Regions from separate parts of the Homo sapiens genome. Here region 1 is linked to region 2. Evidence: fine-mapped expression QTL. A gene starts in region 2. The other region holds a variant in brackets. All regions are shown on one strand. Distances are between the middles of the regions.

Evidence for each region. PIP is the estimated chance that this variant, and not a neighbour inherited with it, causes the effect.
Region 1: its variant is fine-mapped to the expression of NPTXR in spleen (GTEx, PIP above 0.99).

The regions. Positions count from the first base shown.
Region 1 is chr22:38,773,621-38,778,984 of GRCh38, reverse strand. It overlaps DNAL4 (dynein axonemal light chain 4), which reads left to right. Exons shown (of 4, transcript NM_005740.3): 4 at 1-477. Among named protein-coding and RNA genes, the nearest start is that of DNAL4, 18 kb to the left of the region's middle. The variant G/A (reference allele first, on the strand shown) is at 2,704.
Region 2 is chr22:38,840,986-38,846,349 of GRCh38, reverse strand. It overlaps NPTXR (neuronal pentraxin receptor), which reads left to right and starts at 2,322. Exons shown (of 5, transcript NM_014293.4): 1 at 2,322-3,115. The coding sequence starts at 2,492. RefSeq lists a silencer at 2,734-2,803.

The DNA.
Region 1 (5,364 bases), 67 kb after region 2:
AGGCAGCTTCTCTCCTTGTCCTCTGGGGAGGTGCTGACCCCTCAGAAACCCCTTCCCCCAACTTGACCCCAGGCTGAACAGACCACTGCATCTCACTGGGCCAGCAGCCCCCCCAGCCCCCAGCCTTGGTGGGGACCAAGCAGCCTTTCCCGTCCCCTCCTCGACCCGTACAGTTGAGAGCCAGGGGCTGGTGTGTGGGAGCTGCTACCTGGCAGTTTCTCGAGGGGTCACCGAGCCTCTGGTGGGACACCTGGGCAGGAGTGCTCTCACCACGAGGCTGCTTCCGCAGGGAACCCTGGCCTGCCCGCGACTTCGCATCAGGGACCGCATGCTGATTTGTACTGCTCTCTGCTGGGTTTTCTATGTTCTTTTCGAGTGTGGGAAAAGGGTTTTAGTAGAAGGGTGAATCGTATTTTACACAGCGGTCTTATTTATATAAATGTCTTGGTTTTTACAATTAAAATGACCAAAAACTGACCTCATTCTACAGTCTCTTGATGTTAGGGGAAGGTGTGATCAGTATCCTCAGGCTCAGGCACCTAGAGATGTTTCTGGTTAAACTGTGAGGCTGCTGGAAGCCCCTGGCCCAGGCATAGCCCCAGTGGACATGGCCTGGCCCCTCTCACCATTAGGTCACTGAGGTTGGGGGCCAAGTGCAGCTGGATGGGGCCACACGGACACTGAGATACGCTTGGCAGCTGGACTAAGCTACAGTAAAGATGTTTTCAGGCCCACAGAATTTCACTCAGTTCAACAGATGCTTATTCAATAGCCACTGAGGGTCAGGCCCCAGGAGCTGAGGATACAAAGACAAGCCATAGGTCTGGCCTCAGTGAGCTCTCGGTCCACTGCAGAGGACATGGGCCCCATCATTTCACTCATACGAAAAGTAACATTGTAAGATAGGGCGGGGCATTCTGGCAGGAGGAAGGAGGGACTCCAAGCCCAGCCTGGGGAGTACAGGGTCTCCAGTGGGGTAAGGCCTGACAGCCGACGCTTGAACAGAAAACGGGATCTTACCAAGGGAGAGGGCTGCTCTCAGGACAGAAAACTAGACATTACCCCAAGGCACTTGGGGTAAACGCAGGAGATGAGAAGTGACTTGAGGACAGGAGCCACGTGCAGGCCTGTGAAGCCCCCTCAGGGGTTGTCCCCTGAATCCGAGCCTCAGAAGTGAACACCCCGGGCGTGGGGAGAGCGGGGAGAGCCCGCCTTCCCATGCACACAGGGGCCCTCCTGAGATGGTCCCTAGGATACATGGGTCTGGGAGCTGAAGCCCTGTCCTTATCCCAGTCCCAGTCCCACCCTTGTGAGACTGAGCGTCCAGCACTAACAAGATCCATCAACAGATTGGCTGGGCAGCCTCATGGCGAGCAGGTAAGGTTTGCTCAGACCAGACCCATGCAGCCAAGGGGAAGGTTGCTGCCGTGTGCGCACCCGGTCCAAGAGCAGTGGGACAGACAAGAACGAGAAGGCGCAGTCGTTGCCTCAAGGCTGACCATCTGGTTGGGTGGCTTTCCAGCTGGTCCTGGCCCTCTGGGACTTGGCGGATGGGGCAGCTTCTTGGCCTCAGACCTGCCCTGGCCAGAACCCTGTGCCACTCGGGTGTTGCGGAGGGATTGGCAGAAGGGAGTGAACGGAGAGGCGGGGGCCGGCGCTGGAGGTGGGGAGCAGGCGCCGAGGCCTAGAATAGCTGCGCTGATTACCGCCCGCTCTGCATCTGTTCTCTCCTTTCATCTGCTGCACGTGGGCGCCAAAAAGCGAGGCTGGCTCAGCCGGCAACCAGGGTGGTGGGGGTGGCAGGAGCGTGGGTGCTGAGGCCCGCAGAGCTGGTTCGGGTCTGGCCCTGCTCCTCCTAACTTCTCTGTCTTCAGTGGCTCTGTCTGTAGAATGGGGATACACCGCACCCACCTCACGAGGTTGACGGGAGGCCTGGGACCGCAACTGGAACAGGTGACACCCCCGAGGTGTGCACCGCATTATCGCTGTGCCCCTCCTCTTGCCACCTGTGGACGGGGTGCTGACACCAGCTCCTCGGGGTGGGTGGAGATTCAGTGAGATGAGGCTTGTGCAGTGTCTGGCCCTCACAGTCACACCGTACGGTGGCACCACAGGTGGCGAGCAAACCTTCTACCCTAGTCACTCCTGTCACTGCAGCAGAACCCTCCTCACTTGCCTTCCCAGAAATGGGTCATTCACAGTCTCCCCTTCCTGCTCCCAGACAATGGTGTGGTCACCGTTGGGCCAGGTCAGGTGACGGAACCATGGCAGGTGTGTTTCCCAGGGGTTTCCTTGGCCCCGGTGGCTTTACTTCCACTCCCCAAGACCCATGCCAGACGTGGACACCTGGCCTTCCAGGGCCCTTGCTGCCCGTAACATTCAATAAGCATTTGATGATGGGCTGAAAGGAGAGGTCCGTGACCACGGAGAAGGCACCGTCCTTGCCACCCAGCATACAGGCTACTGAGGGCCAGACCCAGGAACAGAAAAGCAAGACAGGTTCATTTGCCAGAAGAGAGAAGACGGGGTTCAGGGAATCTGGAGTTCAGAGAAGAGAGTGACTCTCACTAGGGGGCTGGGGAGGACTTCACAGAGGAGGTGGCATTGAACTGGGCCTTGGCATTTTCCCAGGAAGGGGTGAGATGGGGGTGGGGAGGGGGAAGTCACCATTGTTTGAGGGACCAGCCGCCCGTGCAGAGTGGG[G/A]GCTCCAGGAAGCTCACAATGGGTTCAGGGAAGCCGGGCAGTGGCCGTGGATGGGAGAGGATATGGGGGTGGGGAGAGAGGACGGGCTGAAGGTGAAAGGGTTTGCTGGGGCTCAGGAGGAAGGAGGCTTCCCCCACTTGGCAGGCACTGGGCTTACCCTGATGTGTAACTCTCAGCAGACCTCCAAATTAGGGGTTGCTGTTGCTATTTACAAATGGAGAAACTCAGGTTTGGAGGATGGAGTGTCTGACCCAGGGTCCAGCTAGGGAGCAGCTGTAGCCGGGACTTGAACCTGGGCTGCCTGCCTGGATAGTCCCTGCTCTTCCACACACGCTGCATTCTCAGACCTTCCGTCCACTTCCCTCCTGCCCCGTCCCCCACAGACAGCTGGGCTCCCCGCGGCCTGGCCACGCCTTGGGCCGTCCATCTCCTAGCTGCTTCCCTCACCATCGCCAGGCCTCCCCTGCACCCTCCACGGCAGTTGCAGCATTTATAGTGGAGGCAGTGACCACAGGCCTGCCACCAACCCCGCCTCTTCGCTGCCATCTGCAGTATGGGGAGGAGGGCCTCCCCCCACTAACACCCCAGTCCGCTCTGCTGGGCCCAGCCAGAGTCAGTGTGGGGCAAAAATCGGAAACCTTGTCTGGACATGTCTAAAGGGAGTCACAGGCCCCAACCCCAGGGCCTGTCCCTCTGCCTGGGAGAGCAGTGAGTGCCCCGCCAGATCAGAGAGAGTGAACCATAGGTCCCCTTGCTGGGACTCCAGAACCACAGGCCTCCCAAGAGTGGGGAGCAAGAGGTGCCGAGGCAGTCAGTGTGAGAAGGTGGAGGGTGAGGGCTTGGTCACGAGGCCTTGTGTCGCCTGTGGAAGGGAGCGTGCTGCCGCGGGGACAGCCAGCTTTGAAGCTCTCTGCGGGGCCTTTGGAGAAATCTGGTGAATATTTCATGTTGCCTTGGAAGAGGTGCAGAGAAACTCCAGCATCTTGTTTAACCTACTTCCTGCTTCTCCAGAGGACAGACCCTACAGGTAGGCAAGGGGGTGTGCCCTTGGGCTATGGGGGCCCCCCTCAAACCAGTGTCCCCCACCCACGCCCCACAGCAGGAGTGAGAACTGTGCAGCAGAGGCTCAGCTCCTTAAGCGCAGAAGCAGGCAGCATCTGATTGTGTCCAGGTTTGGGAGGGGGTTGTCAGAGTGCAGCCACAAAAGCCACCACCCTGTCCTAATTTCCTTTCGTTCTCCTCATCTCATATTTAAAACAACCACCTCCCACTGCCAGCTGCTATCTCCAATCCTTAGAAAGGCCGTGGGGGTGGAAGGAGAGCACGCCTAGAAGGCAGAAGACTCGAATCATTTTGAATAATATTCCCAAACTATTAGATTCCTCAGACGTGCTAGGCACAGCACCAAGCATTTCACCAACCCCATCTTCCCTAATGTGTACGTCCATTCTGTGAGGAGATGCCCTCAGTGTCCCCCTCATGCAGATGAGAAGACCCACAACCTAAGTGGCAGAGCCAGGGTTCCCCGCAGGCCTGTGACAGTTCTGAACCCTCTCCAGGGTTGCCTGCCAGCTTGAACAAGCCACTTCGCTTCTCAGATCTCAGTTTCATCACCTGCAAGACAGGACTCGCAGCTCCGGCTATGCCTGCTTCCCAAAGTTACTGTAGGGCTCCCAGGAGACAGTGGCCCTGAATGTGAGTGTGCTTTAAAGTTGGAAGGGCTGATCAAAGATTTGGGTCAGGTGCTGTGGGGGGCCATCCCTTCCTTGGGCCTCCACTCTGGGTGCGAGGCTTGGGAGTCTGGAAGGCTGGGGTGTGCCAGGTAGGTAGGTTATCATCTCTAAGCCCCTGTAGGCACTGGGCCCCTGCAGAGCCAAAGCAGGAGAGGCAGGGCGGCCACACACACACATGCACCTGGTCCAGTGACCAAGGGCCCCAGGTGGCTGGGACCAGAACCCAGAAAGACAATCCCAATGGCAATTATGTGGGAGGACTTGGCTGTTGACCCAGCAGGGTCCACACTGCGTTTGTCCTTCCAGTCTCAAAATGGCCAATGAAGCAGCCTGGAAGTTTCCATGCGACTCCTCCCTCCCCTAACAGTAGGGAGATGGCGTCATAGAGAACATGTGACATGCCAGGATGGGAGCTGGCCTCAGGTCTCCACTGCACATCAGCAGCTCAGAGTGATACCAGCTCCTCCAGAACCCCTTCCCCGCTGCAACCCATGACACATAGGCACTTTGCGTCCCCACGGTGCCACATCTTCTGTCATGGTGTCTATACCTGCTATGCTTTATTTACTCGATGGCTGGGGCTGTCTTATCTCTCTGTGCATCCCCAATGCCTAGCCCAGGGCCTGATATAAATTGAAAATGCATTGTGACTAGCAAGTGAGTGAATGAAAATAGGAATGGATGAGTGGATGGATGCGTGGGTGGGTAGATGGGCGGATGGACAGATAGATGAATGGATGGGTGGATGGGTGGATGGATGGAATAGATTTCTCTAGGAGGTGCATCAGCAATGACTGGGTCGGGCTGATATGAATCGAAAATGCATTGTGACTAGCAAGTGAGTGAATGAAAGAACAGGTGGGTGGATGAATGGGTGGATGGATGGATGGGTGGATGGATGGATGGATGGATGGGTGGATGGATGGAT
Region 2 (5,364 bases):
TCTCTGTCCTCTCCTCCTTCCTCTGCCTCCAGCAGTGGCATTAGGAACTAGTTCAGCAAACATTCACCGAGAAGCTTCCCTGGGCAGGCTTCATGCTGAATGCTGGGGATAGAGATGGGCCAAGGAAGAAGGGAGAGGCTGGGCGCCATGGCTCACGCCTGTAATCCCAGCACTTTGGGAGGCCGAGGCAGGTGGATCACCTGAGGTCAGGAGTTCAAGACCAGCCTGGCCAACATATTGAAACTCCATCTCTACTAAAAATACAAAAATTAGCTGGGCGTGGTGGCGTGCACCTGTAGTCCCAGCTACTTGGGAGACTGAGGCAGGAGAATTGCTTGAACCCGCAAGGCAGAGGTTCCAGTGAGCCGAGATCACGCCACCGCACTGCAGCCTGGGTGACAGAGCAAGACTCTGTCTCAAAAATAAAATAAAATAAAAAATAAAGTCATTCTAGGAGATCAACAGACCAGTTTAAACACAATTTGACTCCAGCCTCTGGACCCATTTATCCAAACTGTCCCCAAAGTCTCAGGGGGCAGCTCAGGTAAAGGTGGCACCATTTGGTGCCCAAGTCACAGTGGCTCTGCTGCTCTTGGCAGCAGCCCTCTCTCTTGGCATCTCCTGTCCTTCCCTGGACTTCCTATGACAGTTTCTCCTGGGGATGCTATCTCCGTGTTTCTGTCTTCACGGCACACGTGTAGATGTACCAGGAGTCCCGATGTCTCATGCATCCCCAGGACTTTAGCAGGGCCTACCGCTGGCCTTTGCCTTCCAAGAGCCCAGCCCATCTCTCTGTCCATGAGATGCTTCCTCCAAGCCCAGCTGCCTGCCCTGGGTTTTGAGGTTACGACTTCAGTGAGCACCAGCACACATCCACGCACACACAGCACTCAGGTTCCTGGCATACAGCGCTTGTGTTTGCTTCTCTCCTCTTTCACAACTCAGGTATGGATGAAAATCCCTGGCTCCTAGAGATGGGTGAACAGGGTGGACATCATCCTAACATGTGTGGAGAGAGGGAGGTGGAGCACGTGTGCCTGGGAACACTGGACAAAATCCCCGTGGCTGGAGAGCGTCCCCCAGGGTTGTGGCTTCCTGGGAAACATTCCGGTCTCTCCCCACCACCAGCGCTATGTGAAGTACACTCGAAACCACAGTGGTAGCCGTGGTGGTCCAGAGATCCTGGTTTGCGCTTTCCCTTCAAGTCAAAAATGCAGGCTTGGAAGGGAGACAGAGCTGGGAATAACCACAGCCCTCCCAAGGCCCTTCCAGCCCTGGGAATCCGTATTGGTCAGGAAAGACCTCATGGAAAATTGGAGCTGGGGATAAAGTGTGGAGGATAGTAGGATTGTTTTTAAGTTTTTAATTGCAAAGTTAATTTTCAACAAAATATATATAGACATTTTTGACAGAAGAAAGTAAAACGCTCCTCTGCCACCCCCACAGCACAGCCCACTCCCATTCCTGCTGTTCCTTCTGGGCCTGGTCCACATGCCCACCAGGCACGTGGCACCGCTTGCCAACGAAGGCAGACTGCAGTGGGGGTGGGGGGTTTCTCTGGACCTGTGAGGCTCTAAGCCCCCAAGGATTCAGAGGAGAGAATTTCCATCATCCTCTGAGATCACAGGAAGATTCTGTAATGAGGGTGGCGGGGAGTGAACTCTGCTCCTTCAGAAGGTTGGAGGTGGGGGTGACGGGCAGGTGGCCACAGTATAAACAGAAGTTAGGTCAAAATCCGAGCCTCCCCCCAACCCCCAACACTGGCCTCTTCTCCACCTCTAACCGCTCCCACTCCAGCCCCATCCACAGTCTGGTCCGGTGAAACGTGCCTAAGCTCGCAGGCGGCTCCAACGCAGCCACCCGGTGACCTTGGACAGAGGCCTGACCTCAGGTGTCTCAGTTTCCTCATTTCTATTGTGAGCCTGTCCACGGCAAGGCTCAATTGCGACCGAGCTTGTGGCGCGCCCAGTGCACAGCCCCACCCGGAAGAAAGCTCCCTCCCGGGTGGATGTGAACATAACCGGCTTGGGGAGGGGGCCCGAGCACGGGAGGGCTGGGATGGGGGTCACCCAGGAGCCCCGCCGCGCGGCCCTCGGGTCGCCGGCCCCTGCGCTGTGACCGCGGCGAGATAAGGTCCCAGGCGCTGCCCTCGCTCCTCGCCGCATCCCCGGCGGCGCCCCCAGCCGGGCGCCCGGCACTGAACGGGTGCGGGGCTGGGCCGGGGCCAGGGCCGGCCCGGGGAAGCGAGTGGGGCGGGGCCGCCGCGCCCGCTCCCCCTCCCCGCCGCCTGCCGTCTTCTCCTCCTCCCGCCGCCCGGGCTCAGAGCGGCGGCAGCAGCGGCCGCGGCGACAGCTCCAGCTCCGGCTCCGGCTCCGGCTCCGGCTCCGGCTCCCGCGCCTGCCCCGCTCGGCCCAGCGCGCCCGGGCTCCGCGCCCCGACCCCGCCGCCGCGCCTGCCGGGGGCCTCGGGCGCCCCCGCCGCCCGCCTCACGCTGAAGTTCCTGGCCGTGCTGCTGGCCGCGGGCATGCTGGCGTTCCTCGGTGCCGTCATCTGCATCATCGCCAGCGTGCCCCTGGCGGCCAGCCCGGCGCGGGCGCTGCCCGGCGGCGCCGACAATGCTTCGGTCGCCTCGGGCGCCGCCGCGTCCCCGGGCCCGCAGCGGAGCCTGAGCGCGCTGCACGGCGCGGGCGGTTCAGCCGGGCCCCCCGCGCTGCCCGGGGCACCCGCGGCCAGCGCGCACCCGCTGCCGCCCGGGCCCCTGTTCAGCCGCTTCCTGTGCACGCCGCTGGCTGCTGCCTGCCCGTCGGGGGCCCAGCAGGGGGACGCGGCGGGCGCTGCGCCGGGCGAGCGCGAAGAGCTGCTGCTGCTGCAGAGCACGGCCGAGCAGCTGCGCCAGACGGCGCTGCAGCAGGAGGCGCGCATCCGCGCCGACCAGGACACCATCCGTGAGCTCACCGGCAAGCTGGGCCGCTGCGAGAGCGGCCTGCCGCGCGGCCTCCAGGGCGCCGGGCCCCGCCGCGACACCATGGCCGACGGGCCCTGGGACTCGCCTGCGCTCATTCTGGAGCTGGAGGACGCCGTGCGCGCCCTGCGGGACCGCATCGACCGCCTGGAGGTGAGCGCCGCGCGCCGTCGGGGGAGCCGCCCGGGTGGTGTGAGGGGCCGCCCGGCCGCGGTCGTCCGGCGGTCCCCGAGCCTCCGGTCTCCCGTCTGTGTTCCGGGGACGATCGCGCCTTCCTCGCTGGCGAGGCGGGGGGATTTCGATAGGGAACGCGGGCAGGCGTCTGGCACGGTGACTGAGGCACAGAGGGCGCGCCAGAAAGATTCGCTCCCCACCCTTTTCCGTCTCCAGGCACCTCTCTGAGCCTCAGTTTCTGTGTCTGTAAAATAGGTATAACAGTGTCCACTTGTAGTGGAAATTGAATCAAATGTAGGTGTGTGAAAATGCTTGGCACGTACTAGGACCTCATTAAATGTCCCTTTCATTTCCTTCTTCCGGACACCCCCAAATCAGCCCAGCTCCACGCTCACACTTTATGGCCAGGAGATGGATGCGCTGTCCAAAGGACTTGGGGTCCTCCCCTCATTACACAGAGCCGGGAACAGAGTGCCCTATAAGACAAACCTGGGTGCCCCTCACCACCTCCCTACCCTGAATCTCCCACTCTGGCTCAGACTATGACCCAAACCGCAGGAGCTCAGGTGCCAGGCGCCCAGCCTCACACACCTGGAAGCCCACAGCTCTTGGGTGGGGGCTGAATGGAGAACAGGGCCCCCCGAGCTCCTCCTCCTCCACTCACTTTTCCAGGCTTTCCTGACTCAGGCTTGGGGTCAGACACAAGGGGTCCAGCATGGGGGAACCCACTCTTGGCTCTCATGTGACCCTGGGCCAGTCATTTCCCCCCTGGAGTCCCATGGCCACCTTCCTCCCTGTAAGAATGAATTTGGGGCTCCCAGAAGTGCAAGGCAGACAGACTGGGCAGGACAAACATCCGGGACACATTCACTACCCCAGCCATGGCCTGACTTCCAGACCACAAGGAAGGGGGTTAAGCAACAAAATCAGATCTGTGGAAGGAAGAGAGAGAAAGAGGCCAAAGCCCGCGCTGCCCCCTCTGCTACCTCCACCCAGGTGGAGTGCAGCAGGCAAGTTGGAGGGAGGAGAGAGGCGGGGAGTAAATGCAGGGACCCCTTACTCCCGGGGCTTTTTAAGTTAAATCCTGGGCAAGCAGCACTGGTGATGCCCACTCACAAGGCTGAGGATGTCGTGGTCTGACAGCCCTCCAGGACGTCTGTACTGGTGTCAGCACCCTCCCCACAGGGTGTCAGAGTGCAGCCAGTCAGCCATTGCAGCCAACCCCTCACCTTACGGATGAGAAAACTCAGCTCAGAAACGTCCTAAGAGAGGTGGCAGAGGCAGGAGAAAAGCCGGGCCCATACCCACCTCTTCCCCGACTCCAGCTCTGGGGGATTTCTAGGATGAGAGAACCAAGAGCAGGAAAATAATCAGGAAAAAGGTGAAAGTATGCAATGAAGGGAAGTCTTAGTTTTCTCGCCTGTAAAATGGGGATAGTAATAGCACCTACCTCACTGGGATATTAGGAGGATTAAGTACTTTATATGAAAGGCCAAGAATAGTGCCTGGCACACAGGTATGTTCAGTCAATTTGAGTGATGGCTATTTTTATCATTAAGCTATAATATTACTCATTTTTAAAATACAGCCAAAACTCAAAATAGGAACAAACAGGTTTTAGGCAACAGGTTTTAGTCATGTAAAAAACAATTTTTGACTTTCATTGAATAAACTTCCTCGTGCCTGCCATAGCCCCTGCCCCCACGCCCAGATGGCACAGGTGGCTCCTCCCACGTCTGGGGCTGGCAGGCTTGGACCTGCCTTGGACCTGTGCCCCCAGCACCTGCAGCATTTGGCAGGGTGGCCTCCCTTCCGGTTAGCCCGCTGAGGTTGGGGGGATCCTGGCAGCTGGAATTTGGCAACAGGTCAGCCTTCCAGGCTGGGGGAGCCCTGGCTTCCCCATGTATACCTTTTCCTCTTTTCTGAGTGCAGCAGCCACAGACAGAGAAGGGCGGGGCCCTGCTTGGCCACCAGGTCTGCTTTCTGAGCGTGGCAACAGCCACAGCTAGTCTTTTGGGGGCCTCTGGGAGGGGCTGGGGCTGGAGCTGGAGCACAGCAGACACAGGGTGAGACCACTTGGCTCAGCGGAGTCCCATGCACCCGTTAGCCACTGTCCAATCTCTCCCCTCTCTTCTCATTCAGTATCCTCAAAGTGCCCAGATTTTCAGGGTCTCCTTTCCCTCCCAGGATACACTGAAGGTGCTCTTGCTAATGTCCCCAAGATGATA